4 linked regions of the Homo sapiens genome follow. The protein of the gene in region 4 interacts with the protein of the main gene of each other region in a pairwise test. Each region holds a gene or a part of one and is shown on either strand. Other genes may lie near its edges. The genes, in order: PELI1, IKBIP, BFSP2 and WASHC3.

Region 1 (8,001 bases), on a different chromosome or scaffold from region 4:
ATATAGAAACTACATTGACCCTTTATAAAAAATAAAATACTTTGTATTGGAGAAAGCCCTTGGTAATGTTGCTAGCCTTGCTGTAAGTCCAAAGTACAGCCCCTTAGCTAATAATTATTTTAGCTATTTTAGGCTTTGTATTGCCCCCAGACCCTCTGTCGATTCCTCACTGCCCCTTCACTACTGTCCTCTGAGTTGCATGACTCATCCCACTTCTGGATCTTGCTCTTTAGTCCCACATTGCGTTCCTGTAGTTCAAAGCTCTTTTCTAAGCAGCAACAGCATGAAACCTTGTCCAGCTTCACTTCTAGAGGGTTGAGAAGAAAAATTATCTGCATTTTAAGACACCAAGTACCAGACACAGAGACAATTACTGTTGCTAATGATTAACTGAGGAACCCATAGGCTAAGACTGGCGGTTTAAAACCCTAAGCTAAATATTAAACTATTCTTCAAATGACTCTCAAATTTCCTGCTAGAAGAATTTAATCTGGAAAAGTTTTTGGTAGTTAAGAGCTGTTTGTCATTGATACCATTAAAATCTATGTGATTTGAAGTTCTAATACTGTAGTTACTATGCTAAATTTATGATCTTTTAAAGCTTTGTTTCTGAGAAAAGAATTTTAAGTCTCAAAGGGCCTTAGATGATCTTATCTGTCATTTTTACAGACAAGGAAACTAAGGCCCAGGATGGTTCAGTGACTTGCCCAAGGTCACACAGCTAGCAGTGCTGAACAAGCACCGGATTCTAGGATTCCTAACATCCAGTCAAGCTCAGTAACTCCATATGATTTCCCCAGTTTCTCTTACTATCTCAACTGAAACAACGCATTCTCACTTTAACAACCTGACTCTCAAACATACCGCAATATCTAGAGTTGCTTTTTAGGCAAAAGGAGGGAAACAGTAGGGGGAAAATAAAATTAGCAATTTTCTTTTTTCTCATTTTTTTCGAGACGGAGTCTTGCTCTGTTGCCCAGGTTGGAGTGCAGTGGCGCTGATCTCAGCTCACTGCAACCTCCTCCTCCTGGGTTCAAGTGATTCTCCTGCCCCAGCCTCCCAAGTAGCTGGGATTACAGACATGCACTATCATGCCCAGCTAATTTTTGTATTTTTAGTGAAGATGGGGTTTCACCATGTTGGCCAGGCTGGTCTCGAACTCCTGAGCTCAGGTGATCTGCCCACCTAGGCCTCCCACCTGTAAGCTGGGATTACAGGTATAAGCTACTGCACCTGGCCTAAAATGAGCAATTTTCTAGTTTCTGAGATCTCTAGTTAGGAAAGGCTAATACTGTGTCTCCATTTTGATAGTTAATGGCAAGTTTAAGTGGAATAAATTGAAATAATTTGGAATAACAGAATCATCTATTCCTCAATCTTCAGATTCTATTTCTGTGAGTTACATGGATGAAATTACGTTAGGAGCTAAGAAGTAGCTAGGTCCTGGGCTTCAGAGGCATTATGCTGTCACCATACACATATACAACTCCTTTAACCCAAATGTACAGCACAAAGCAATAACTACTGTAGAGAGGCAAAAGAATAAATGAAGACTAACCTACATGAAATGACTTAAAGCAGGGAAGGGAAAGGGAATTTTTGGTAAAGTCAGCTGAGGCAAAACATGGGATAGGGAAGACAAATGGAATGACTGTGACAGTGGATAAATAACATTTTTCATTTCATTTCATTTTTTTTTTTTTGAGACAGAGTCTTACTCTGTTGCCCAGGCTGGAGTGCAGTGGCGCGATCTCAGCTCACTGCAACCTCTGCCTCCAGGGTTCAAGCAATTTTCCTGCCTCAATCTCCCAAGTAACTGGGATTACAGGCATGCCTCATCACGCCCGGCTAATTTTTGTGTTTTTAGTAGAGATGGGGTTTCACCATGTTGGCCAGGCTGGTCTCGAATTCCTGGCCTCAGGTAATCTGCCTGTCTTGGCCTCCCAAAGTGCTGGGATTACAGGCGTGAGCCACCATGCCCGGACTTTCCATTTCATCTTTGAGAAACTCTGCCCTTTCTGTGGGTAAGGGTGAGACAAAGCTTATGTCATATTTGAGTGCTTTTAAAAGATGGCATGAATATGAGAAGTAAAAGAGTTTCTTGATTTGGTAACATTACCTGTAGCTTTAAATTCTTTTTGGAAGCAGGTAAGATATAAATTCCAAAAAAAAAAGTACTTTTAGCCTAGATGCCAAAGTTAGCATATATTATTAAACTGTGTGTGTCATCAAATGGAGAAACCTTACCCTAAGACAATGAGTTCACCATATTTTACTGGTGCTTTAGATGGATGATTTTCTTGATCAGGAGAAAACATGAGCTTGGCTGTCTTTCTCAAATCTTTGTTCACTGGTCAGGAGCCTTGGGACACCTTTTGCATTATTTCCTAGAGGGGAAAAGTTTTCATTAATAATGTGAACAATTCGTTTCAGTTTAAATAAAGATGTTATTTTTCAGCAGTCCTCTTGAACACAATATTATGCAAACCATCACAAGGTATATACATTTTATGGGACATTTTGCCCAATAATGATTATATATTTTACAAAACTGTTTAAAGGAATCAAAAATGCAAATTTGAAGACTTCCACTTACAGAAGCATAGAGCAGACATACTTTTCCCTTTTATTTCTGCTAAGTATAACTAAAGACCCTGGACATTATATACAAAACATGAGAAGACTGTGAAAAGTGGAGAGAAGGCAGACTAAGTAAGGGACCTCAGGACCCATGGAATGACACGGTGGTGTAAATTCTCTGGGTTTTCTTTTTGCCTAATATATCCCAGACTTGGAGCTAAAGAAGGCAGCAACCTGGAAATGCCAACTGGCACAGACAAAAAGAGCCACAACAAAAGCTTGCTCTCTCTAGCCAAAGAAACAAGAAAGGGACAGCCTGGCAAGACAGAAAACTTTTGACAGTAACTGCTCCACTCCAGCCAAACCCAGAAAACAGTTTTGCCCCACCACCACCCACACCAACGAAAGCTAAGTGAGGAGCCTTGACTTCCAGCTCATAAACCATAGTGAGGAGCTCCAATGCCCTATTAGGGCAATGTAAAAGTAGGCCAACTAGGGAGCCAGGACTTTCACCCTGATGGCCGGGCATGCCCCAGCACCTACCTCAGTAGGTGTCAGCTAGACTTCCACCCCCACCCAGCAATAACAAGAAGGATCCTCTTCCTGAGGCATCAGTAGAGGCTGAGTAGGGACCCTTGACTTCTATGTCCACCTGGCAGTAATGAGGCACCCCCTATGACCTTGCCAAAGCAGTGTCAATAAAAGCCAGTGGAAACAGAAGGTTTAGATAATATCCAGAGCCTAGGAACATAATATGAAAATATCTAGTTTTAACAGAAAATCATTCATCCTAGCAAGAACAAGATTTAAAACAATGCAAAAGATAGGCTGGGTGCAGTGGTTCACGCCTGTAATCCCAGCACTTTGGGAGGTCGAGGCAGGCGGATCACTTGAGGTTGGGAGTTTGAGACCAGCCTGACCAACATGGATAAACCTGGTCTCTACTAAAAATACAAAATTAGCCGGGCGTGGTGGCACATGCCTGTAATCCCAGCTACTAAGGAGGTTGAGGCAGGAGAACCACTTGAACCCGGGAGGAGGAGGTTGCAGTGAGCCGAGATCAGTGCCACTGCACTCCAACCTGGGCAACAGAGCAAGACTCCATCTCAAAACAAAAACAGAAACAAAAACAAAAACAATGCAAAAGATAATCAATAGGTGCCAAAACTTAGATGACAGAATTACCTGACAAAGATTTAAAAGCAGCTATGATAAAACTGAACAGTGGAAATTACTCGATCTGAATAGAGAGAAAATAGGAAAAACAAAATGAAACAAAAAACAGAGCCTTATAGACCCGTGCGTGAGACTATAGCAAAATCTAACACGTGTGTCACTGGACACACATGTCAAAAAGACAGAAGAAAGAGTAAAGCTGAAAAAATAAAGAGGCTGGGAGCAGTGGCTCACGCCTGTAATTCCAGCACTTTGGGAAGCGGAGGCGGGAAGATCACTTGATGTCAGGAGTTCGAGACCAGCCTGGGCAACATGGTGAAACCCCGTCTCTACTAAAAATACAAAAATTAGCCAGGCATGGTGGTGTGCCTTGTAGTCCTAGCTACTTGGGAGGCTAAAGTGGGAGTAATCGCTTGAACCCGGGAGGCAGAGCTTGCAGTGAGCCAAAATTGCGCCACTGCACTCCAGCCTGGGCGACAGAGTGAGACTCCGTCTCAAGAAAAAAAAAAAAAAAAAAAAAGAAAAAATATCCTGGAAGCAGAGAGAGAGAGAGAACACTGCATTTATAACGACAATTAGACTGACAGTGGAGTTCTCATCAGAAACCACAGAACCCAGAAGATAGTGGCATAGTATTTTTCAGGTGCTGACAAAAATGGAAGGGAAGTCAAGACATTCTCAGACGAGGAAAAATTGAGAGAATTTGTTACCAGCAGACCCACTATAAATAAAGAATGGCTAGAGGAAATTAACTAAACAGAAAATAAATAAATAAAAGAACCTTAAAATATGAGATGTAAAAACACGGTAGCAAAAATATGAGTAAATACAATCGACTTTCCTTCTCTTGAATCTTCTGAATTTTGTCTGATGGTGAAAGTGAAAACTATAATACAGTTAGATGTAGTTCTAAATGTGTGTAAAGGAAATAGTTCAGAAAGGCCAAGGTGGGAAGATCACTTGAGGTCAGGAGTTCAAGACCAGCCTGGCCAACATGGTGAAACCCCATCTCCACTAAGAATACAAAAATTAGCAGGGCGTGGTGGCACGTGCCTGTAGTCCTAGCTACTCGGGAGGCTGAGGCAGGAGGATCACTTGAACCTGGAGGCAGAGGTTGCAGTGAACCCAGATCGCACCACTGCACTCCAGCCTGGGTGACAGAGCAAGACTCCATTTCAAAATATATATATATATATGTATTTGACACAAGTATAACAAAAAATTAACACTTCTGATCAGCCGGAAAATCACACAATAAATAATCCCCAAAATATTATCATGTCTTTTTCATCCTCAGTTTAATGGGATCAAGTATTTCCTGCATTTATTTCTCTCCCTAGTTCCTGATAGACCTGTTACAAAGGTTTCACAGCAAAACTCCTACTAGCTAGCCCATAAAAGTCTCCTCATTTTATACCTCCACCAACAGATTTCATAGGAATCTCATGAATGAAAAAGGTCTACTTGTCTTTTTCTACAGTACAATGAAATACAGCCTGTGTAGTGGCACTTTTGGTGAGAAGGCAACAGGGAATGTATGTAGCCCAATGAATAAGAACACGTCAAAGGAAAAGTCAATGAATAAAACAAATCATTCTGACCCCTACTAATCCCTTGGAAGTGACATACACATTTAGACCAGTCATTCACACTAACACACAACTACTATCATCAATAAATTCAAAAAATTATTTTAAAAAATGCTTCAGAAATATTTTAAGAAAAACATTTCCATCATTCAAATACACTAAAAACACCTCTCGTCACCCTAGATATATTTGCTTTTGCTGAAGAGATTTTAATTCATTACGGTATTTAAAAGGTTACAGAAACCAATATATTGCTATTTCACCATAACTGTGATACATCTGAGTTGTGAGGCAATCAGATTCCTTATTTAGAAAAATAAACTTATGCTAAGCTAACTAAAACCTTCAAGGTAAAAACTGAAGTTTCAAGAACAATTAAATCAACCAAAGAATAATTTTGGTTCCATATAATAAGATCTTCTGATATACATGAAATCATACTTTAGTATATAAACATGTATTCATGCCCTCTCATTTCCCCTCTAAGAAGCATTTCATTTAAAAAAGTTATACAGAAGCTTAACTAGAGGCATTAGCTGTGCTTTTTCTGTTTAGACAATTAAGGAACTGACATCAAACATGAAAACAATGCTTTGACACATTTCTGACGAAGAACAGCAATAATTAAAAATTTAATAACAATTAAATTTAAATTAATTTTAAATTAAATTTTAATAACGTTGCTTTGTTTTGAATTCCTATTTAGAGTTACTATTTAAAGGATATAATGGTTTTCTATTTATAGTAGCAAAAAATTTCCTTTAAAATAAGCTTATTTAAAGGAGTCAATTTAAATTGTATTAAATAGAATTAGTAAGTGCACAGATATGGCAAACATCTGAAAGTGTAAATGCCCGTATTTGGCTGACATTAGTATATCACATGGCTAGCAAGTATTAGCCTGTGTTCTAGTTCTAGCTGTCTTTGAACAAAGCAATCTGTTTCCTCATCTCTGAAAATGAAGGGACTAAAGTGGAATAAAGGGAATTTGGGAGCTGGAAAAAATATAAGCGACCATTTGGTCCTGACATAAGAATTTACAAGTAACGTGCATAACACTATAGATTTAGTTCTATTGCGTCTATAGCAAAAGAACAATTTTTTTGCTTAGACAAGAAACTAAAAAACAAGAGTACGGCTGGCATATACCCTCCATATAATTTCTAGAGCCCTTGGTCAAATTAGCCAAGAAAAACAATATATTTCCAATCAGACATATTCTTACTCTGCTTAGATCTCTTAGAAGGCCTTATCTGGGGATATTTTATCAGTGACATCAAAGTTTCAATCACAGGAACACATTCAATCTTGGCTTCTACTTCTGTATTTGATAATCTAAACCCAAAATAAAACACTTTTGTAGTACCAGTTATTTATATACATAAATGACCCAAGATAGTTTTCAAAATTTAAAAATGGCATATAATCAATCAATATACAACTGGCCTTATTAAACTGCAAATAAAATGCTGTGACAGCTATTCTTCCTGGAACTTTTTTTTTTATGTGTTCTCTGAAGAAAGATTCATGATCTTCCCAAAGGTTTATACTCTTTAACAAAGACCAGTACCTAGACAATGCTTTCCTACTCACTGTCTTTATATATTCTCTCTATATTTTAAAATCTGAGTAAAAGAATTCTTCAAAATGAATTCCTAGGCTGGGCATGGTGGCTCATGCCCGTAATCCCAGCACTTTGGGAGGCCAAGGTGAGAGGATCACTTGAGGCCAGGAGTTTGAGACCAGCCTGCGCAACATAGTAAGACTCCCGTCTCTACAAAAGATTTAAAAAAAAAAAAGTAAAAACAGAAAACATTAGCCAAATGTCATGGCATGCACCTATAGCCCCAGCTACTCAGAAAGCTGAGGTGGGAGGATCACTTGTGCCCAGGAGTTTGAGGCTACAGTGAGCTGTGATCCTCCAGCCTGGGTGACGGAGAGAAACTCTGTCTCAAAAAAAAAGAAAAAAAAAAAAAAATTCCTGAAGTCATGTACTTGAGAACTTTAAATGAGTATGTACATAAAAAACATCCGAATGTCTCGATTACTGGCTTCATTTGTTGGTCTTCAATTAAGTTAGTTTGACCTCATGTATTCAGCCCTATCCCAATGTTATCTAGCACCAAGAACATGAAATAGCACCATTAATTCTACTCAAGACTAGAAGAAATGCTAAAGAAAATCTTCCTAATAAAACTGTCTTCTATTTTATCTATTACTTTGAAACTTTGCTTGATACTCGAAAGCATGTTGCTCTCATTAGCAGGAACTAAACTTCCAGAGTTAAAAAAAAATTTTAAAATAAACATATTCTGGAATAGTGTTATTTTCTTTGTGGGCTGGGAGAACATGAAAAGTTACTCATAAAATATGTATTTATTAGGAATAGTATTATTAATTTGACTGTTAAACATTCTAATCATTTCCTTTTTAAGGGCCAGTGAAATACAATTATTTTCATATCAAGTCTTCCCAAAGGAAAGACTTTGTATAATATCTGTCAGTTTCACCTAAAGAAGAAAAACTGAGAAATCAATCTTTGTCTCTCAACCTAACAAATGTTTTCTTTCATTATTTACATCACACACAGCCTTTTGCTTACTACCTACTAAACACAAGTACAAAATTCCTGCCCTAAAAAAAAAAGCAAAACAAA
Region 2 (7,568 bases), 3.4 Mb from region 4:
TACAATTTGATATCTTTCCTAAAATCCTATAATTCTGGAAGGGTTTCTGCCAAAAAATTTTTTTGACCAACCTCTTGCAGAGAAAGTACTAGAATCAGGTCTTACAGATACAAAGGCAACAATGAATTAAAAAACAGTTTAGTGAGACAAGTCAAATTGAATGGTAAAGTGTTTTAAGTATTTGTAAATTATGCTAAGCCTCCGGCACCTCCTAATCTGTATCTGGAATATAGAAGGCCAAGTCATTGACCTCTTTTAGTCTACACTTAGATAACAGCTTTAGAGACTACAGGAAGGCCTAGAAATAATCATTAATTTATTATGTGCTTGCAGCATTATGCTGAAGACATAATACTGAACAAGATACAAAATACTGCCCTTAAGCAGCTTTGTTTAATCGACGAGAAAGACAAGTGTATATGCACTATGACAGGTGAAGAGCTATGGAAGCACTCAGGTGGAGACCCAACCTAGACTTCAGTGATGAAGGAAAGTATTTTAGAAAAAGTAATATCTAATATCTGCTTCCAGTTGCTTGCTCTCTAAATTAGCCTACACACTACTACTAGACTAAGCTTTTAAAAACTGGTATGCCTATCATGGTACACTGTTACAAAACCTTTGATGTTTCCTAATACTTCTAGGATAAAGTCTCAAATTCTCTAACCTCTCCCTATGCTATCCTCCTCTCCTCTTTATTTAGTTACATTGTCCTTACTTCAAGGCTCAGACCGGATCTCAGCTCCTCAGAGCAGCATTTCTTCCATAGCCCTAGCCCTGACAACCTGAATTCCTGTAGCACCTATTACACATATATTTGCCACATATTTGCCTCTTAGCACATACAATTAAAAAATTTTGAGGGTTCACTCTGTGCCAGCCTTGTGTGAGACAGTGGAGACAAATACAGCATAGTCCTTGATTTCACAATTTGATTGGGAGACAGTGTTTAGATCTTCCACATCATATATTCTAGAGTCCCAACAAGATCTACTGAGTACCCTGTGTGAGGTAGTTCCATTATCAGGTACTAGGGAAATGGAGATAAAAGATGCAGTGTATGCTCTAAAGAGGAGTAAAGGAGATAAACTAGCAACCAAAAAAATCACAGTAGATTATAAGTAGCGTCACAAAAGAATTAGCACAGGGGGCAATGGATGCTTTGAGGAGAGATAAAAAGTTAGGAGGGCAATGCGAAAAGGCCTGGAAGTGGCTCCAAAATTGGAATCATTAACAGACTGATTGATGAATTAGCAGGGTGAAGATGTGAAAGCTTCTAAATTTCAAAGGAGAAGAGACCATGTCTTATGCCTCTGTGTAATCCCTACATCTCAGAGTACAAAGAATATGTTTGTTGATGCTTAGGAAGAATGACCCTAAGCCTTCTAGGTCCACCCCAATCAAGACTTAAAGAGTATGCAACAAGAATGACTAACACCACTCTGAAATGTTGTTTAAAATTTATTTTAAGGGTTGGGCATGGTGGCTTACGCCTTAATCCCAACATGTTGGGATGCCAAGGCAGAAGGACTGCTTGAGCCTAGGAGTTTGAGACCAGCCTGGGCACAAAGCAAGACCCTGTCTCTATCAAACAAACAAACAAACAAACAAACAAACAAAATTAGTTGGGCATGGTGGTGTGCGCCTGTAGTCCCAGCTACTTGGGAGGCTGAGGTGGGAGGATTCCTTGAGCCCAAGAGTTCAGGGTTGCAGTGAGCTATGATCATGCCACTGCATTCCATCCTTGGTGACCGGGCAAGACCCTGTCTCAAACATACATACATACACACACACACATTTAAAGAAAACAAACAAAAAAATCCAAAGAAATAAAAACCTCTTTTAAATGTACACATACAGCCATAATACAAGTTCCTTTTAAAATCAATTATGAGAAATACTAACCATTAACATGGTTAGGTTTAGTTGTTTTATTAGCAGTATTTTGAAGAGGCAAGCTTATCCTCACCTAAGGTAATGTCCTGTTTAGGAGGTTCATCAGAGCCTCACTATAATCTGAAAGCAGTATACCCCAAGTAAGTGCAAGATGTTATAGATTTAATCTGCAAATATTTAGTGACTAGTATGCCACAGTAGCTAGCATTTATGGGCCACCAACATATTCTAATCGTTTTTCATTTTTATTTACTAAAAAAATTTTTTTTGTAGAGATGGGGTCTCACCATGTTGCCTGGGCTGGTCTCAAACTGCCAGGCTCAAGTGATGCTCCCAACTTAGCTTCCCAAAGTGCTGAGATTACAGGCATAAGCCACCACACCGGGTCTCATTTTTTCTTAAAGAAAGAGCTAGTAGGGCCAGGTGCGGTGGCTCACACCTGTAATCCCAGCACTTTGGGAGGCTGAGGCGGGTGGACCACCTGAGGTCGGGAGATTGAGACCATCCTGGCTAACACAGTGAAACCCCATGTCTACTAAAAATACAAAAAATTAGCCGGGTATGTTGGCACATGCCTGTAATCCCAGCTACTTGGGAGGCTGAGGCAGGAGAATTGCTTGAACCCAGGAGGCAGAGGTTGCAGTGACCAGATCTCCCCACTGCACTCCAGCCTGGGCAACAAGAGCCTGGGCAAAAAAAAAAAAAAAAAAAAAAAAAAAAAAAAAAAAAGAGCTAGTACTTTATTAGTGCTTGATTGTTTTCAAAGAATTTGTATATAAAGTAAGTCCTCACTTAACGTCATTGGTAGGTTCTTGGAAACTGACTTTAAGTGGAACTATTCAGAGCAGCTCCTCCAACAACGTTGTTTCGATGTCCTTTCATTACAACGTAGATGAGAAAAAAATTGGTTTCATTATACACTTCACTTAAAATCGTAGTTTCCAGGAACCTATTGATGACCAGGAACCTATTGATGACGTTGAGGACTTACTGTATATCTCATCTGATCTTTATAAAAATCTTATTATTTCTCACTTAATAAATGATGAAATAGAGATGAAGATAAGTTATAGTGATTTGTCTAAGGTCACACAGTTGGGATGGGTGTCCATGTCTAGCTGTTTTCCCCTCCATCTGGGTTATGCTGCCCTTTAGGGCCACCTTTGTGAAAAGGGACCTCTTATTAAATTACTCCCAGGGCAGAATGGGAGAAAAAGCTACGAAAAGACTGAATATTTCTTTTTTTTCTTTTCATTTTTTTTTTTGAGACGGAGTTTCGCTCTTGTTGCCCAGGCTGGAGTGCAATGGCATGATCTCGGCTCACCACAACCTCCACCTCCCAGGTTCAAGTAATTCTCCTACCTCAGCCTCCCGAGTAGCTGGGATTACAGGCATGCACCATCATGCCCAGGTAATTTTTTGTACTTTTAGTAGAGATGGGGTTTTTCCATGTTGGTCAGGCTGGTCCTGAACTTCTGACCTCAGGTGATCCACCTGCCTTGGCCTCCCAAAGTGCTGGGATTACAGGTGTGAGCCACCACGCCTGGCCAAGACTGAATATTTTTTGGATTCTATAATGATATTTTAAAAATCTGCTTCAAAAGCTTTTTTTTTGAGATGGAGTCTCACTTTGTTGCCCAGGCTGGAGTGCAGTGGTGCAATCTCGGCTCACTGTGACCTCTGCCTCCCCGGTTTAAGCGATTCTCCTGCCTCAGCCTCCTGAGTAGCTGGGACTACAGACACACGCTACCATGCCCAGCTAATTTTTGTGTTTTTAGTAGAGATGGGGTTTCATCATGTTGGCCAGGCTGGTCTTGAACTCCTGACCTCAGGTGATCCACCCACCTCGGCCCCTCAAAGTGCTGGGATTACAGGTGTGAACCACCGTGCCCAGCCTGGCCAACATGGTGAAACCCCGTCTCTACCAAAAATACAAAAATTAGACGGGTGTGGTGGTACACACCTGTAGTCCCAGCTACTCGGGAGGCTGAGGCAGGAGAATCACTTGAACCCGGGAGGCGGAGGTTGCAGTGAGACAAGATCGAGCCATTGTACTCCAGCCTGGATGAGAAAAGTGAAACTCTGTACCACCCCTGACCTCCCCCACAAAAAAAAAAAGAAAAAAAAAAAGGAGAAATCTTGTTCAAAATAAGTTTTCAATAGCTTTTATTTATATTTATTTATTTATTGAGATGGAGTCTCACTCTGTTGCCCAGGCTGGAGCACAATGGCGTGATCTCAGCTCACTGCAATCTCCACCTCCCAGGTTCAAGTGATTCTCCTGCCTCAGCCTCCCGAGTAGCTGGGATTACAGGCGCCCGCCACCACGCCCAGCTAATTTTTGTATTTTTAGTAGAGATGGGGTTTCACCATGTTGGCCAGGCTGATCTCAAACTCCTGACCTCGTGATCTGCCTGCTTCGGCCTCCCAGTGTGCTGGGATTACAGGCGTGAGCCACCGCGTCCGGCCTTCAATAGCTTTTAATTAAATATGTGAAGTTTTGGCAAGGCACAGTGGCTCACACTTGTAATATCAATTCTTTGGGAGGCAGAGGCAGAAAGGTCATTTGAGGCCAGGAGTTTGATACCAGCCTGGGCAATGTAGCAAGACCCCGTCTCTCCAAAAAATTAAAGAAAAAAAAATTAGCTGGGTGCAGTGGCGTGCCTGTTAGTCCCAGTTACTTGGGAGGCTGAGTTGGGAGGAGTGCTTGAGCCTGGGAGGTTGAGCTGTTATTCCAACACTGCACTCCAGCCTGGATGACAGAGTGAGAGCTGGGATGACAGGGAGAGACTCTATCTGAAAAAAAAAAAAAAAAAAAAAAAAAAAAAATATATATATATATATATATATATATATATATATATGAAGTTTCTTGCCCCTGGGATTTCTTCTAATGGTATGTTAGAGTTCCCCCAACAGCTACAACCAGATTCCAATTTTTTTTTTTTTTTTTTTGGGACAGAGTCTCACTCTGTTGCCCAGGCTGGAGTGCAGTGGTATGATCTCAGCTCACTTCTGAAACCTCTGCCTCCCAGGTTCAAGCAATTCTCATACATCAGCCTCCCAAGTAGCTGGGATTACAGGCATGAACCACCATGCTCAGCTAATATTTTTGTATTTTTAGTAGAGACAGGGTTTCGCCATGTTGGCCAATCTGGTCTCGAACTCCTGACCTCAAGGTGATCCGCCTGCCTTGGCCTCCCAAAGTGCTGGGATTACAGGCATGAGCCACTACGCCTGGCTCAGATTCCAATTTGAGCCCTATGTGAAAATACCAACTCCTTTGCAGCTCCTTCCCCAAATCCCTTACACTCACCATCCATGGAATCCCCTGGCATTTGTGAGGGATACTTAATTTTCCTCCATGGCTTTTCTCTTCTGGAGGATTATATGCTCATCCTGTGCATGGGGCTGCAGGGACTTAGATGCTCCATTTCATCTCTATTTTTACAACATCCTTACCCACCCTGGTGCCAAGCATAGGTCCTTGCTTACCTTGTGACATGAGCAAAGGTTTAGTGAATGAATAAATGAACAAAAAGCCATATTTCCCAATGATAGCTTGGTCCCTGGTACCCAGAATAGGCCTACATGATGCCTTATTGATCACAGCTGACTTTGACTTTCTCCTGAGAGGTGTGGGAGTTACAAAAATGTTTATTTGTCTCACATTTCTAAGAATCACAGTAATAACGCATCTGGTAGAAATCAGCAACTTGAAGGAACACAATATAGACATGGTATTATTTTAATTTTCATTGGAATTCTTATTTGGCTACAGGACAAATAGTTACTTTTAGGCTAGCCGTTCTTTTTTTTTTAATTCTTTTTTTTTTTTTTTTTTTTTTTTGAGACGGATCCTCGCTCTATAGCCCAGGCTACAGTGCAGTGGTGTGATCTTGGCTCACTGCAACCTCCACCTCCCAGGTTCAAGAGATTCTTCTGTCTCAGCCCCCCGAGTAGCTGGGATTACAGGCGTGTGCACCACGCCCAGCTAATTTTTGTATTTTTACTAGAGATGGGGTTTCACCATGTTGGCCAGGCTGGTCTCCTAACTCCTGACCTCAAGTGATTTGCCTGGCTCAGCCTCCCACAGTGCTGGGATTAAAGGCATGAGCCACTACTCCCAGCCTAGGCTAGCCATTCTTAAATGCATGTACATATATCCTTAAAAAGCAAAAAGTAAGGGAAAAAATGGATAGATCTTTTCCCAATAAGTGCTATTCATATTCTAATTTTATGTCCAAAGATCAACCATATTTTCAGATGAGATCGAGCGCATTCAGGGTGGTATGGCTGTAGACATGATCAACCATATTTTCAATGCTCTAGATACCTGACACTTAAGTAGAAAATTAACATCATGCTAATATGAACAAATTGGTCTTTTTCAATACTAGAAATTATCATATTAAAAAATCCTTGCCCCTCAAAATGCAATCTGAGTCAAAATGGCTCAGAGGGAGAATGTCAAGAGGTAGGAAGATCAGTGAGAGTTAAAATAGTGATGGTCTAAAAGGCAGGAAGAAAGAAGTTCTGAGCTGGGATAGAGAAATGATAGTGGGGTAGTAAAATGGGAAAACCGTCCCAGATAAGCCAATTAATGATTACCTTTTCTGAAATTAAACTGATTTTACTTTGAAGTTGTTGGAATTCATTGGTTTCTAGTTTCAGTAACTGGTATTGGTTTTCCACCTTTGCAAATTTTTCTGACTGCTGAAATACAAACCTGGAAAAGAAAAGAAAAATCACTATTCTCCAATTCATATCCATTTAAATCCGAATTTCAAAGGAGAATTATACCCACTTCTGTTAAGAACAACATAAATTCTGGTATGGGTAGCTGTAGGTTTTTTTTTTTTTTTTTTCACACAGGGTCTCACTCTGTCACCCAGGCTGGAATGCAGTGTCACAATCATAGCTCACTGCAGCCTTGAACTCCTGGGCTCAAGTGATCCTCTTACTTCAACCTCCCAAATAGCTAGGACTGTCCATCTCGCTATGTTGCCAAAGGTGGTCTTTAGCCTTTTTTTTTTTTTTTTTGAGATGGAGTCTCACTCTGTCGCCCAGGCTGGAGTGCAGTGGCGCGATCTAGGCTCACTGCAAGCTCCGCCTCCTGGGTTCACGCTATTCTCCTGCCTCAGCCTCCCGAGTAGCTACGACTACAGGCGCCTGCCACCACGCCTGGCTAATTTTTTGTATTTTTAGTAAAGACGGGGTTTCACTGTGTTAGCCAGGATGCTCTCGATCTCCTGACCTTGTGATCCACCTGCCTTGGCCTCCCAAAGTGCTGGGATTACAGGCGTGAGCCACCACGCCCGGTATTTTTTTTTTTTTTTAGATGGAGTTTTGCTCTTGTTGCCCAGGCTGGAGTGCAATGGCACGATCTCGGTTCACTGCAACCTTTGCCTCCTGGGTTCAAGCGATTCTCCTCCTCAGCCTCCCAAGTAGCTGGGATTAAAGGCACCTGCCACCACGCCCCACCAATTTTTTAATATTTTTAGTAGAGATGGGGTTTCACCATGTTGGCTAGGCTGGTTTTGAACTCCTGACCAGTGATCTGCCCGCCTTGGCCTCCCAAAGTGCTAGGATTACAGGCATGAGCCACTGTGCCCAGCCCCAAGGTGGTCTTGAATTCCTGGCCTCAAGTGATCCTCCCCTCAGCCTCCCAA
Region 3 (8,001 bases), on a different chromosome or scaffold from region 4:
GGCTCAATGATTGGTGGTTAGAAAGAAAGGAAGCTATTGAAACGGGGTAGGGGTTGGAGAAATGGGTGAGTGAAAGGATGTTTTCTAGGCTGGAGAACATTTTGGGAATCCAGAATTGATGAAGACCCTGCTGGGAAGGTTCTTGTTGATACTTGGGGGATAGAGGGAGTATGGTGGGAGAAAGGACAGAAAAGCCTCTCCTATTTTTCTTTTCATAGCTTTTTATAATTCTTATGGTTCTCAAATCTGGCTGCATATTAGAATCATCCAGAGAGCTTTAAAAATCACAAAGTCCCTCTCCTCTGTCTGATTTGGTTGGTCTGGGATGGCGATTTTTGAAAATGCTCTGAAATAATTCTGCTGCGTAGCCAGGATCAAGAACCACTAAATAGTAATCAAGAGCTCAGAAACAGCCTTTTGCCTTAACTCAGACATCTACCTTATTTTCTCTACTTTTCCACATTTTCCTTCCTTGTCACTTTTCATCCTCTGTCTCAAGATTACAAAGTCAGAAATGGGTGGGAGATGGAGAAGGGAAGAACAAACCCTATGCATCCTATTTTCTGGTTAATTCCTGTATTATTTATGAGGTTTAATAAAAGTTGTTTTTCTTCCATGAATATAATGTATACTATTTAACAAAAACTTGAGAAATACTCAAAAACAAAAAAGAAAAAACATCTCAAAGTGTCAGACTGATCCATCACTCAAAGGCAACGACTGCTAATCCCATTTTAGTCTTTTCTTTCTAAAATTTTTTCTCAATGCCTAGTTTCTTTGTTTGAATGCTTTACCCTACTGTATATACCAGGAAGTGGCAAACTGCAGTCCACAGGCCAAATCCATCTCACCGCTTATTTTTGTAAATAAAGTTTTATTGGAACACAGCTATGCTCATTAGCTACCTATTGGCTACAGCTGCTTTTACACTGCAGTGGCAGCGCTGAGGAGTTACAACAGAGGCCATCTGGCCCAAGAAGCCTGAAATATTTACTGTTTGGTCCTTTACAGAGAATATTTTTTGGCTTCTGGCATATACCATTCTGTACTCTCATTTTCTCCTCATTTTACCTCATATTATGAACACATTCCTATTTTATAAATGCTTCATAAACATTAATTCTAATAACTGCCTGATATTTTACTGCACATAGGTAGGTTGTGGCTTAGATTTTCTTCTACTAGTAAATGTGTATGTTTTTTTCACTCTTATAATGCTTCAGTGAGTATATTTGGACACAGATGATTTATTTTTTCAAATATTCTTTTTTTTTTTTTTTTTTTGAGACAGAGTCTTGCTCTGTTGCCCAGGCTGGAGTGCAGTGGCCCAATCTTGGCTCACTACAAGCTCCGCCTCCCAGGTTCACACCATTCTCCTGCCTCAGCCTCCCGAGTAGCGGGGACTACAGGCACCTGCCAATGCGTCCGGCTAATTTTTTGTATTTTTAGTAGAGACAGTGTTTCACCCTGTTAGCCAGGATGGTATCGATCTCCTGACCTCATGATCCGCCCGCCTTGGCCTCCCAAAGTGCTGGGATTACAGGCGTGAGCTACCACGCCCGGCCTCAATTATTCTTTCAGGATTGTATTCAGATTATTCAGTTGGTAGCTAGGGGCATTTTAACACTCTTGGTGCATATTACTAAATTTCTTATTCAAAGGCAGTGCACTAGTTTATGCTCTTCAGTAATACAGTAGAGAACCTACTTCTCCACATACTTGCCAGCATTTTTACCATTTTAAACATTTTCTACTTTTAGATAGGTAAACAAAAAGCTATTATTTTAATTTTCATTTCTTCTGTTTCTAATGAGGTTGAACTTGTTACTAAACCGTTGTTATTTCTTCGTCTGCACATTGACTAGTTTGCAGCTCAGCGTGGCCTCCTTCTGCATAGGGCAGAGTGGAGGATGCTGGTCCTGCCTCTCACCTTAGCTTGGAGCAGGGCTCCTGCCTCCACCCGGTTCTTTTCAACATCTCTCTCCCACTGAATTCTGATCGTCTCAAGGATGTCGTCCAGACCAGTGCCAATGGGAGCATCCATTTGTTCCAGCTCACACCCTGCCAACTGTTTGTGCAGCAGCTTCACATCCTGAAAACAACAATATACATCTTAGATGAGTTACGGGGGGAAATAAATGGCATAGAATTCTAGCCAGCAGAAAACCAGCTCTGTGGGCAATTCTTTTCTCATTCCACAACTGCCAGACACAGGCTTCACAGAGACTGGGAAAGTCCCTGACCTTCTTCCCAGCGTAAGTGTAATTTCTCTTTTCCCAAGGATGCATTTCTCCCTCTCTCCCTCCCTTCCTTCCTTCCTTCCTTTCCTTCTCTCTCTTTCTTTCTTCCTCCCTCCTTCCCTCCCCCTCCCTCCCTCCTTCCTTCCTTCCTTCCTTCCTTCCTTCCTTCCTTTCCTTCTTTCCTTCTTTCTCTTTCTCTCTCTCTTTCTCTCTTTCTTTCCGTCTGTCTTCCTCTCTCTCTCTCCTTCCTTCCTTCCTTCTTTTTTTTGACAGGGTCTCACTCTGTCACCCAGGCTGGAGTGCAGTGACATGATCTCAGCTCATTGCAGCCTCCATCTCTTGGGCTCAAACAGTCCTCCCACCTCAGTCTCCTGAGTAGCTGAGACTACAGGCACAGGCACGGCACACACCACCATGCCCAGCTAATTTTTGTATTTTTAGTGGAGACAGGGTTTCACCATGTTGCCCAGGCTGGTCTTGAACTCCTGGGCTCAAGTGATCCCCTGCCTTGGCCTCTCAAAGTGCTGGGATTACAGGCTTGAACCACCATGCCTAGCACCAAGGATGCATTTCTTAGGTTGGTCTCCACAAGCCCAGGCCCAAAGCAGAAATCAAAATAAAACAAACAAACAAACAAACAAACAAACAAACAAAAAACCACATGTATACATATGTAACTAACCTGCACATTGTGCACATGTACCCTAAAACTTAAAGTAAAATAAAACAAAAACAAAAACAAAAACAAAGTAAGCAACAACAGCACAGGGCATTTATGCATAAAGCCAGACAAGGATGAAAGAGACTTAAAAGATAACTTTGGCATCTCTAAATGGTTACTGTTGGAGAGTAGTCTTAAATCACTGAGCTAAGAACAAGAAGAAATGGGCTTACAGTTGCTGGTTAGCTTAAGTTGGTCTCAAGAAAGAACTTCCCAATGTGAGCATCGTTAAGTGGGTTTTGACTCTTTCAACTTGAAGCAGCCTAAATCTTGGATCAGACAGTAATATGTGTGAGGTGGTTTAGAATTGCTGAAGTCTCGCAGGGAACTAGACCCCATAACTGTTGGAGGTCCTCTTCAGTTCTGTCACTCAATAATCTGACCCAGTTTTGTTAATGAGTAGATGTCAACCACAGCTTGGATCTACCCTCAGAGTTGTTTTGTTTGTATAATACAGTGTTGAAAAAAAAACCTGACATAGAATGCATTGAGGAGGGGTTGCTCCCTCTAATTTAACACAAGTTCCCTCATTTGCTAGTGCCAAGACTGGCTGCCTTCCCCTGTTTCTGTACCACACTGGTTCCTGAAGCTATTTGAGTTTGAGACTGCTGGGGTAACCTGACCCACTTCAAGGATCTGAAAGTATTTTACAGGTATGTTCCCTGCAGTCCTGGGCACGCAATGTGGAGAGTCAGAAATGAGCTACTGTGGCCTTGTTATGAAGCACAGGCAGACAGATGTGAACTTCTGGTCTTGTGGCCAACCCAGCAACCCCAGCCCCCTCCTACCTCTTCATAGTTTCTTGATAGAGAGCCAAGTTCTTCTTTCAGACTTTCTATTTGACTCTCCAGGTCCATTTTAGTCAAATTAGCCTCATCAATGACTTTATACAGAGAGTTAATTTCCTCTTCTGCCGCCTTTCGAAATGGCTGCTCATTTTCATATCTGCAGATAAAGGAACTTAATTAGCATAACTGAGTAGCCCAAAAGAAAAAGAATCAGATTATAAATGTTACCAACAGGCCAATTATGTGATAGTTAGACAATGAATGGTAAAAGTCACTGTTTCAATAGATTTGAGGGCACTGTTAGTGCAGTTGTCACACATTGATTTATTAAAATGAAGGCAATTGCAGCCAACTTCTGATAACCTGGCTTCCCGGGCTACCAGCCTCATGGGAGTGTTGCAACACAGAACTCCAGGGAAAACTCAGGAGTTCAGATCCAGGTTAGGGGATCCGGCATCTTCATCGCTATCCTGATTGTCCTCCTTTTCAACCAAGGATCCTTTAACAAACATTACTGACAACCTGCTAAGCACCAGGGTGGGGACCCCAAAATAAGAAATGTGGTTTCTGTCTCCAAAGCACCCATGTTAAAAGTGTCCATCTCCAGGAGAGTGGCTGCAAACCCAGATGCCTTCAGGGACTGAGTGGGAGGTGTAGCTGAGCACGGTTCTCAAGCCTGGATGCACATTAAGTCACCTGGTGAGCTCTAAAACTGCTGAAGCCTGGACCCAACCCCTGGGGACTCTGATTTAATTAGTCTATGGCTTGTGCACTGCACTGACATTTTTAAGTGCCCAGGTAATTCTGATATGCCCAGGTTGGAGAATCATTACTGTAAGCTAGTAGTTCTCAAAGTATTTGAGTCCCAGGACCAGCAGGATCAGCATCCCTGGGAACTTGTTAGGAATATAAATTTGGGGCCCTTCTCCAGACCCATTGAGTCAGAAATTCAACAGGGTGGGGCGCAGCAATCTCTGTTTTCTATATGGCCCCTGGGTGATTCTGAGCATTCCAGAGTTTGAGAACCCTGCTCTAAACCAACTGACAGTGGGCAAAATCTTTGAGCCCTTGGGGCCTACTTTATGTTTACAAGGAGGGGTGTGAGCTGGATAATCATGGCTCTGTTATCCTGCCAGCTTCCCCTGAGGTAGAAGGTGGATGATGCAGGCTCCAGAACAGCATTATCCACACTTGCCTAGGAGTCTAGGGATGTGGAGGGACTGTCGCCTCTGCTGTAAGACATTACCTCTCTTTAAAGTCATCTGCTCCGGCCTGGATAGTTTCTGTCTGCAGCATGAGCCGGGCATTTTCCAAGACTGCCTCACCCACCTAGAGCGATCACACACACCAAAGGAGACAAGGTCACTGGGAGCGTCAAGATCACTTACCACCATGACTTGTGTTAGGCACAGAGGCTCTGGGGGACCTCAGAGAACCTTTCTTACAGCAAATATTTGTGGAATTAAGATGTCCCTCTCTTTGGACAATGGTCAGGGTGGGGGGATATAAATAATAAGGCATAAAATCTGGATATCTTCTAAGAGTTTTTAGAGTGGGATTTTTGGCACAAAAAGACTATTCAAAGGCAGACTTGTTCATAGCCTCTGTCACAGTGACAAGCTTTCATCTCTCCAGGGCAGAGTCCGGCTCCTTAGATGAAGTTTCACTGGCTTTGCCTAGCAGCTCTTAAAATTTCTGGTCATGGATGCCTTTGGAAGGCTGGTGAAAGCTCTAGATGAGTGCTGAGAGAGCTTCCTGTGACGGTGGAAATGCTCTGTCTGCACTGTCCAGCATGGTGGCCACCCGTGGCTACCGTATTGGGCAGCGTGGCTCTAGAGTTTCGTCTCCCCCAAAACATACACGTGAACATAAACATTGTGGATATAGTTTAGGGGTTTCATGGAGCCTTGAGGAGTGGTTTTTCAAACTTGAATCCCCAAGCCTCTCAGGATCTCCCACAGGTAGGGAATGAGGGGTGTCCTCCCTTCAACCCAAGAAACTCCTTTATATATATATATATATATATATATATATATATATATATATATATATATATATATATATATATATATATAAATGGTGAGCTGAAGGCTCTGATAGGGGGAGCCTGCAGGGTGGAGCCAAATCCCAGCTATGGGAGAAGAAAATAACTGCTTTCCCCTTGCTCCAGTGTGGCTGTCTTATTTTGTTTCATTTCATTGAATTACTTTTTTTGTTTTTTCTTTGAGACAGAGTCTTGCTTTGTTGCCCAGGCTGGAGTGCAGTGGCACAATATCTGCTCACTGCAACCTCTGCCTCCCAGATTCAAGATATTCTCGTGCCTCAGCCTCCTGAGTAGCTGGGATTACAGGCATGTGCCACTGCGCCCAGCTAATTTTTGTATTTTTAATAGAGATGGGGTTTCACCATGTTGGCCAGGCTGGTCTCGAACTCCTGACCTCAAATTATCCACCCATCTTGGCCTCCCAGAGTCCTGGGGTTACAGGTGTAAGCCACCAAACCCTGCCATTTTCATTGAATTCCCCACTAGCAAAGCTAATCATTTCTGTTCCAGCTTGGCCTGGGGCACACTGGGGAGCAGGCAGACTAGGGTGTCTCCCTTTCCCAGTTCTTAATCACTCCTGTCTCTCACCTCTGGTGCCTGGAGTTCTCCTTCTGGTTGATAAAGAACTTGCAACTCATTCACATTTAAGTATCAAAGGACTAATATTGGCTTAAAATAGTGATTTATATCCTTCTTTTAAGGTAACAATTCCTACCCTCCAAAATTAAAGCTTATAGAAAACCTATGTACAGTTGTCCTTTGGTATCTATGGGGTCTTGGTTCCAGTCCCCCACGGATGCTCAAGTCTCTTATATAAAATGATGTAGTATTTGCATATAACCTACACACACATCCTTCCATATACTTTAAATCATCTCAAGATTACTTATGATACCCAATACAATGGAAATGCTATGTACATAGTTGTTATTTATTGTGTTATTTAGAAAATAATGACAAGAAAAAAGCCCACATGTTCAGTATAAACGCAATCATCTATTTTTTAAAAAATATTTTGATCTACAGTTGGTTGAATCCATGGATGTGGAACCCATGGATGTGAAGGACTGACTGTACTTTGCACTAGTGGTTCTCAAAGTGTGGGCCCTGGACCAGTGGCAGCAGCATCACCTGGGAACTTGTGAGAAATGCACTTTTCAGCTCCTGTTTCAGATGGACCTATCAGAATCTCTGCAGGTGGGTCCCAACAATTTGTGTCTCAGCAAGCTTTCCAGGGGCTTATGATGCATACTCAACCTTGAGAACCCCGGTTTCACATGGCCCTGCCCCCAGGCCTGCTCTAGCTGCCTCCCTGCTGCACCTGGAATCCCTCTGTGCCTTTGCACCTGCTGCCTCCATTGAGAGCAACTTGTTTCACTACCTCCCCACTCCCAGCCCTCAGTCTGAGAAAGCCTGCTCCAGTATAATGCTCATTTCAAACACGGCTTCCCCATGAAACTTTTCTATTTATTCACTCATTCATTCTTGCCTTAATTTCTTCAGCACATAATTACTGTTTATGCCAGGCTCTGTCCTGTTTGTTGAGAAACCAGCCGCTACTGTAGGAGATGAGGTTAAAAAGGTAGACAAGACCAGACCATAGAGGGAAGGCCTTGGGCACAATGGAAAGGAGTTGAGATTTACTGGGAAGCCTTTGAAAGGGCTTGAGCAGGTTACAGAGGTGATCTGTGCACTAAGTGGACCCTCTGACTACTGTGGGAAGAGAGGATTGGAGGAGGCAGGAGAAGATGCCAAAGAACCAGTCGGGAGGCTCTTGCGGTGGTCCAGGGAGCCCATTTTATTAATGATGGTGGCCTGGACGAACGATGTGATCATAGGGTAGGTGGAAAAATGTGGACTAGTTTAAGATGCATTTGGGGGATAGAACAGTCGGTTCTTTGTGGTGCAGTAGTTATGGGGAGAGTGAGGGAAAACAATTAGGGGTGACCGCTCCGTTTCATCCTGAGCTGTAGAGAGCATGGTGGGGCCTTTGCTGATTCTCTTCCTCCCTCATTGGCTGGTTCCTGCATCTGAGTCACAGCCCACCCCTGTGGCACATTATCCCTCTCTTACCACATTTAGTATAAATACTTTGTAGACAACGACAGTGTTTTCTTATTCTGGAAACTGGCTCCTCCATTCACAAGCATGGGTCAGTTGCTTAGAGTAAGTAATTCTAAGATTTGGTTTCCTCCCCCATAAAATGAA
Region 4 (8,001 bases):
TGAGTTTCAATTATCTAGGATATGACAAAACTCTTGTCTTTACACTTTAATGTGTGACACAGCTCATTCTTTTTTCTTTCTTTGAACATTCACCACTGAATGTTATTAAAATATGTTTCTTCTATGCAAAAAAATGGGCATATTGTTGGTATTTCAACCTGAAATGGTTTAGCTTTCACTATGAAATAGTTAAGCATTTCAGGTTAGATCTGCGAGACCCATACAAACCTTCTTTTCTGAGTTCATCCTGATATCAATGACACGCATTTGTCGATGTTTGGCTAACTTTGGGGATGACTCTATGGCCATGGAAATAACTAAGGTTAACTTGTCCATATGGTCATTTAATGTGCGACCTTGGACTCTAACTCCCAGGAATTCCTTAAACATTAAAATAAGACACATATTCACATTAAAATAAGACACATATTCATTATAAAGAATAATAATTAAAAAAAAAACCAATGGTAATAAGATCTCAAGCAGCAATACTCATTGAGAACTGTTGACTGATAACCATAGTTAGCACAGTGGCTATGGCCCAAATAGTTTCAAGTGGGTATGGCTGCTAGAGGACTATCTTGAACATGTTCAAGACCGGGTTTCCAAACTAGAGAAATGTTCTAAGAGAAACACAGTTGCTGAAGTCCATAAAGAGACGTAGAAAGTACAAACTAGACATTCTGGTCATATTAAAAAGGGATATCATTTTTTTCTTCCTCATAAATATTTACAGAATATTTCTTAGTTTTATTTTGGTAAATGGACAAAGAAAATATTAACTTCAGGAAAGTTAGTCATGAAAATACACTAGTGTCTCCATAACTTTATAAACAGAAAAAACACATGTAAAAAAATATTAAAAATGAAACCAAAGACATCACTGTTATCAAAATCTTTAAGCTTGCAATCTAAAACAGTCTTCTATTTTTCTTAGTTATTATTTGCAATTTCTGACATCAAAACTGGTATTCCTCATTAGCATTTAAGGTATCTGCAAATAGAAACAGCTGATATTGTCTCTAAAATTTGCTCTGAGACATCTAAAGATTTATATTAGTATTGTATTATCAAATAATAACTAGTAAAATAAATCTGGAATTTTCTATCAAATGAAGTGAACTAGATAACAGCTCAGCTTGTTAACATGTTACTCGCATTATGCGTTTGCCTAGCACAATGAAAGAAATCGCAAACCATGTGTACATTTGAATTAATGGTTCATAATGAACACCATTTTCTTTGCAACTGCAGTAAAATTAAAAACACAACCAGTATCACTTCACAGATACAGAAGTTAAATGGAATCACTCCCAAATGCAATGAAAATTAAGTATGATTAAGAAAGCTGGTATATGCACAGCAAAGTTTATACTACAAATTATTGAGAAATACCAACCTTTGCATCTAAAATATTGAGAGTTGTTTCAATTTGTTGGATACGAAGTGAAAGGTCTGCCAGTTTCTGTAAAAGAAAAATTAGAGACATAAAGACTTTAATTAAAATAAACTGTTAACAATAACTAAGGGCAGATATGAAAATATTAAAAACCATTAAATATTTGTCATATTCTAATACAGTACTGTCTTATTTACATGAGTAGGAATGAGAACTCTTCTATTACGTGTATTATAATGCTTCTCAGTTTCTTTTTTTTTTGGGACGGAGTCTTGCTCTGTCGCCAGGCTGGAGCGCAGTGGTGCGATCTCGGCTCCCTGCAACCCCTGCCCCCTGGGTTCAAGTGATTCTCCTGCCTCAGCCTCCCGAGTGCTGGGACTACAGGCACGTGCCACCACGCCCAGCTAATTTTTGCATTTTTAGTAGAGATAGTGTTTCACCATGTTGGTCAGGATGGTCTTGATCTCTTGACCTCGTGATCTGCCTGCTTGGCCTCCCAAAGTGCTGTGATTACAGGCGTGAGCCACCGCACCCAGTCGCTTCTCAGTTATTTTATAAAATTATATTCACTTATAACAAAGTTGACATTTTCTGCAAACTCATTATCAGAGCAGTAAACAATTGTTGAGACCAGAATATAAACAAACCAGGACAGAGCCTTTTGTTTACTACTGTACCTTTAGTGCCCAGAATAGTACCCTGACACTTAATAGGAGCTTAATAATTATTTGTTGATGAATGAAGAAATTTTTTCATAGAAAATAAAAGAATAAAAATTATTCAAAGACACGCTGCAACAAGGTCTGCCTTTATAAATTACTTAAATGCATCAGCATATACAATTCGTCCCAGATTTAAACATCTGTAGTTTGAAAAATAAAGGGGAATGGAATTGGAAGATGAGTAATTCATTTTGGAAAGAGAAGAGAAAAAACTAGAGTATTAAAATCTACTATCAAAATGCAAGATAAACCAGATAGAAGAGCTTATCATGCTTGTTACTCTGTATAATTAAATTGTCAATGTACCTCTGTGTAAATATACACCTATACAAAGAAAGGTAGCATCATAAAATATGACCATTCAAGTAAAGAACATTTACTTGAAACCTCCTAATCTTAAACATTATATTCAGTCACATAATCCAAGAGCAGTTGCCCAGTTTACAAGCTGGCAGATACACAGCATCCTGATTGTATTCTGGGATATTATTAAGATCCTGACTATTAAGTAGAACTTTACCATCCTGTGAAATGGTCACTTTGCCCACAATTAGAGGGGGCAAAAAACTGAAAGTGGCCACAAAGCAGATAGTGCTTCTTTACAGATCACTTATTTTTAGTTTAGCATCTTGATATCGACAAAGACATAATCTACAAATAAAGTATTAGGATCTAGTTTTCATGGTATCAAAGCTAAGTTTACCCTTGACTTCTAGAATTCATTCACATAAGGCTTTTAGGTAAACACCAATACAGGTTTATAACATGTATTATGAATGAATCCCTCTCCAAATTATAAGTGTATTCCTTAAAATCATAGAAATTTAATTTTGGCAAATCTAATCAGTCTCAATTCACTAGAGAAAAAATTCCACAGCAAATTAATATGTAAAGTGAATGAGAATTTCCAACTTATTTAAAAATGGACATATTGGTTTGATTGAAGGAAACACAAAAGGAAACAAAAAAATGGAATTAAAAATTTTTCTGTTTTAATATACCTATATATTTACTTTTAAGCAATAATCATCAATACTGTAAATATCTGAGTATTTACCTTGCTACATATGGTACAGTGTATATGCAACATATCAATTGAAATCTTACACCAAATCTATAAAGTAGGAACTATTATGCCAATTTTAAAGATGAGAAAATTGAGTCTCATACAAGTAAAATATCCTGAACTCAAACCCTCCAACTCCAGAGGCAATACACTTCACGAGATTTTTTTGAGATAATTTTACACTGTTAAAACATAATGGTAAATTCTTGGGTATTGCACAGAATTTTTGTTATCCAAAGCTAACAAATGATCAATTCGTTTCTCACTAAGATGATTCTGTGCCAAGAGGAAAAGCCTTTTGCTCTTCTGATTCTGAGATGATCATTTACAAAGTGGTTCTGAACTACAGTACATGAACTAGGATGAGAGAAAAAATTCTACCTTTATTTTTATCTACTTCTAGCTTAAATTCAGCATTGTTTAAAAACATAGTTAAAAAAAAAATCACCATAGGCTGGGCACAATGGCTCATGCCTGTAATCCCAGCACTTTGGGAGGCCGAGGCAGGTGTATCATCTGAGGTCAGGATGGTCAACATGGTGAAACCCCAACTCTACTAAAAATACAAAAAAAATTAGCCAAGTGTGGTGGTGTGCGTCTGCAGTCCCAGCTACTCAGGAGGCTGAGGCAGGAGAATCGCTTGAACCTGGAAAGCGGACGTTGCAGTGAGCTGAGATCACGCCACTGCATTCCAGCTTGGGCGACGAGTGAGACTCCGTCTCAAAAGAAAAAAAAAAGAAAAAGAAAAAAAATCACAGTGGTTTTAGGATCTAAGACTGTCACCAATAGAAATCATAGTTTTTTTTTTAAATCACATCACAATTGCTGCAGATTTCCTTATACTTCAAAATTAAGGTTATTAGACATATGAAAGGATTATATAATTTAATGCTTTAATAAAGAACCTACTAGTATGTCATAGTTTTAAATTTTTTTAAGTATATAACTGGTTTCTTTTGTAATCCTATGCATTTTATTCTATCCACCTGAAAACATTAATTTGGTTTCACTAGACTGTCAAAGGGTCCATGGCATGATTAAGAAAGAACTACTTTTCAAAGATAATTCAGTATAATAAATGGTTTTGTATGTTCCAGTGTAATTATTGGTATAACATACCTGAATGTATACTTTTTAAAGAGCCATTGTCAGGTGAAAAGGTATACCTGGGTTCATTTATGGGCTGCTGAAGTTCATTTCTAAGATGTGTATGCTTGTGGCATTTTCCTTATACAATCCCCAGACCACTATAAAACAAGTTTTTCAATGCTAGCTATATTGACATTTGTGGGTGAAATATTCTTTGCTGCAGGGGACTGTCCTGAGCACTACAAGATGGGTAGCAGAATCTCTGGTCTCTATCCACTAAATGCTAGTAGCACTCCCCAGTTATTACAATCAAAGACACCTCTAGACATAGCCATATGTCCCCTGGTTGAGAGCCACTGCTCTAAATTATGGATGACTGTGGATATAACATAAGTAACATAATCGGTGACAGTAGCTGTTCTCACCTCTGAAAGTTTTAGCAAGAGGAAATGGAAAGGTAACAGTCTTTCCCATCCATTTAACCATCGTCTTCATGAAGACTGAAAACAAACTTGAAATGCTATGGTTTGGGATAACAGGGGAATTTACAAAGTCCCTGATATTTGTCAGATAAGCTGAAAGCTTGATTTACTACCCATGTATTTCCAAGGCAGTACATTTTATAAAGTTAAAAAAAAAAGGACAAAAGAAAGAAGGAAATATGGAGTTACTAGTTGAATATGGAAACAAAATAAAATGCTGGTTTTTCATGGTTGTAAAATATCTTGTTTATATATCCATTTCTCTAAAAGAGAAACAGTATTTTAAGATAATGGATCTCTTGGTATACCCCACTGTGTTGCGTGTGCCCCAGAAGCCAGAAAAGGAAGCAATGAATGGTTTTATTAGGTTGTGTCTGATACTTAAGCCCAGCAGTGGTTAAAGATATAAGAGCAAATAAGGATTTAAGCAAAATATTATCTGATTAAAGGTTAAGTCCAATGGCAGGCTAAAAAAATGAATGTAGAAGATAAGCACTAAAGAAACTTTCAGGTTATGTGACAATTCTCAGCACTTTTGCTTGTACCTAAAGATTTTAGAAAAAAGAAAAATTTCAGAATTTAAAAAAATTATTTAAAAATCCAGTATCTTAGGCATGTAATAAGTCTGAGTTTGGCTGAGGGTGCTTGTAATCCTAGTACTTTGGGAGGCCGAAGCAGGCAGATGAGCTCAGGAGTTCAAGACCAGCTTGGGCAACATAGGGAAACCCTGTCTCTACAAAAAATACAAAAAATTAGCCAGGTGTGGTGGCACGCACCTGTAGTTCCAGCTACTTGGGGCGCTGAGGCAGGAGGTCTAGGCTGCAGTGAGCTAAGTTCACTCCACTACACTCCAGCATGGGTGACAAAGTGAGACCCTGTCTGACAAAAAAACAACAAAAAAAGTTTGAATTAAAATAACATTCTGGCCAGGTACAGTGGCTCACGCCTATAATTCCAGCACTTGGGAGGCCGAGGCCGAGGGATCACTTAAGCCCAAGAGTTGGAGACCAGCCTAGATAATGTAGTAAGATGCCATCTCTAACACACACACACACACACACACACACACACACACACACAATTAGCCGGGTGTGGTGACACATGCCTATAGTCCAAGCTTCTAGGGAGGCTGAGGTGGGAGGATCACTTGAGCCCAGGAAGTTGAGGTTGCCCTGAGCTGTGATCACGCCACTGCACTCCAGCCTCGGTGATACAGCAAGACCCCGTCTCGGGGGGAAAAGAAAAGAAAAAAAAATTATTAAACAAACAAACAAAAAACCAAAGTAACACATTTGGCACTCCTGTTTATAAAGTACCTTTGACTTTAAAATTCACTATAAGGTTAAATGCTCAGGTTTCACCTGCAATATGCATAGAGCTTATGTTGCTTCCTGCCAACCCCTCAAAATTTGCAGTCCCAATGGATGACCATAAGATTTTGCTGACTAAAGCAAGAATAAAAATGCTCACTGGGGATTTGTGATGGAAGAGGAGATGACCCTAAGTACCTCTGTAATGTGGGTCTGATTCTACTACTTTCTCTGTCATCTAATCTCTCTTCTACTCTGGTGCCAATCACTGGAAGAGTTACAAAAGTAGCCTAATATGCAGAAAGTTTTTGCAAAGTTGAGTTCTTCACAGAATGCAGTTTTATACTCTTCTCTTTAATGAAGAACTCTAGAAACAGTGCCACTGATGAAGAAAGAACCCTAGCAATTTGTTTCAAACTTAATTCTGGCTTGAGGGTTTATCTGTGACTGAAGTTGTTTAAGGTTGGGTTTGGTTCAAACCAGATCCTGTCGGGGGGTGGGAAAAGTTTTCTTTTTCCTCCCAGTTCACTCTCAGTTCAAAAACTAACAGTTGAGGTTCCTCTTTTGTTGAGAGAAACAGTCAGTTGGTTCTTGTTTGAGGCTTTAAATAAATAAGGACTAGAGGCCTATTAGGCACTATTAACAAAAACATTTCAAAACACCAAAGTGACTTTACCTTGGGAGAAAATGGCACCTTACATTTGAATACATGTATCTTTGGAATTGACATAAAAATATATTACATCAAACAGACATAGCATAGCAAAGAAGTGAATGAGTCTAAAAATAGATTTTAATATAGCTATAAGAAGGTACTTGTACTGCACTCTCTCACTTGAAGTTGACATAAGCATGCTTCTTAATCAGATAAAGCAGTGCAATGTAAGAAAGCAATGAGATATTGACTTTTCCAGTTAAAAAATCAGTGGGAATCCAGTTCTGCTACTTTCTATCTGTGTATGTGCAGCTAATGCAGCTACAACTACTGGGGGCATGCAAAGATATGTTGAATGAATGAATGACTAAGCAAATGATTTAAACTTCTCTACATCTTAGTTTCTGTATCTGTATGAGTGGGATAACTAAACCTCTCTCAAAGGACTGACTGCGATAATTAAATACACATAAAGCACTTAGTATGATGCCCAGCACAGAGGAAGTACACAATAAATATTAGTTGTTATCTCATTGAGCAGTCTCCAGCTGACATGAATATCCAAATTGCTAAAATATATATTGTAGACAATCAGTTACAGTCAACCCTAGATTATCATACATAAAGGAGAAAAAGGTGGGACAACAGCAAGATGGGGGAATAGGACTTTCCAGCACTGATCCTCCCACAGAAACATCCATTTGAAAAACTATTCACGCACGAAAATACATTCTCAAGAGCTAAGGAGACCAGGTGAGAAATTACAGCACTGGGTTTAGCACAAAAGTAAGAAAAAACACACTGAAGAGGGTAAGAAGGACAGTTTTACAGAACTCATGTCACCCTTCCCCCAACTCCAGGCAGCACAGCATGGAGAGAGATACCCTCCAGGTGGGCGAAGGAGAGGCAGTGAGCACAGGACTTTGCCTTGGACCACAACACCAGGCCCACCCCAGCAGAACTCAGTGCTGAGCAAGCCCCCTCAGCCCAGACTCCAGGCTGACACCTGCAGGCGAAGCCTTTAGGCCCATCCTGGCACTAGGCTGGATCACCCAGTCCTGAGTTCTAGGCTTGTCCCACTGGGACCGTAGGTTCCAGACCAGCTCAAGGCTCAGGACAGTCCCAGCACCAGGCAAGACTGCATAGATTGTCTCCAGGTCTGCTCTAGGGACAGGCCAGCCCCAGTGGCCCTAGGTTCTGGACCAATCCCAGCACAGGGCTAGCCTCCATGGGCCCAAGGTTCAGGCCCACCCCAGCACCAGGTCAGCTCCTGCAGAT

What was found.
Region 1: the proteins of WASHC3 (region 4) and PELI1 interact in binary tests that used the Homo sapiens proteins (3 or more experiments, as listed by UniProt).
Region 2: the proteins of WASHC3 (region 4) and IKBIP interact in binary tests that used the Homo sapiens proteins (3 or more experiments, as listed by UniProt).
Region 3: the proteins of WASHC3 (region 4) and BFSP2 interact in binary tests that used the Homo sapiens proteins (3 or more experiments, as listed by UniProt).

The regions. Positions count from the first base shown.
Region 1 is NC_000002.12:64,105,993-64,113,993, forward strand, and holds part of PELI1 (E3 ubiquitin-protein ligase pellino homolog 1), read right to left. Parts: intron 6,681-8,001; exon of another isoform or gene 6,571-6,680; intron 2,388-6,570; 5' UTR 2,319-2,387; coding exon 2,248-2,318; intron 1-2,247. UniProt on the Homo sapiens protein: E3 ubiquitin ligase catalyzing the covalent attachment of ubiquitin moieties onto substrate proteins. Involved in the TLR and IL-1 signaling pathways via interaction with the complex containing IRAK kinases and TRAF6.
Region 2 is NC_000012.12:98,627,789-98,635,356, forward strand, and holds part of IKBIP (inhibitor of nuclear factor kappa-B kinase-interacting protein), read right to left. Parts: intron 6,626-7,568; coding exon 6,508-6,625; intron 1-6,507. UniProt on the Homo sapiens protein: Target of p53/TP53 with pro-apoptotic function.
Region 3 is NC_000003.12:133,444,394-133,452,394, reverse strand, and holds part of BFSP2 (phakinin), read right to left. Parts: intron 6,991-8,001; exon of another isoform or gene 6,820-6,990; intron 5,079-6,819; coding exon 4,996-5,078; intron 3,907-4,995; coding exon 3,750-3,906; intron 3,615-3,749; exon of another isoform or gene 3,500-3,614; intron 2,093-3,499; coding exon 1,931-2,092; intron 1-1,930.
Region 4 is NC_000012.12:102,044,655-102,052,655, forward strand, and holds part of WASHC3 (WASH complex subunit 3), read right to left. Parts: intron 1,466-8,001; coding exon 1,400-1,465; intron 1-1,399. UniProt on the Homo sapiens protein: Acts as a component of the WASH core complex that functions as a nucleation-promoting factor (NPF) at the surface of endosomes, where it recruits and activates the Arp2/3 complex to induce actin polymerization, playing a key role in the fission of tubules that serve as transport intermediates during endosome sorting.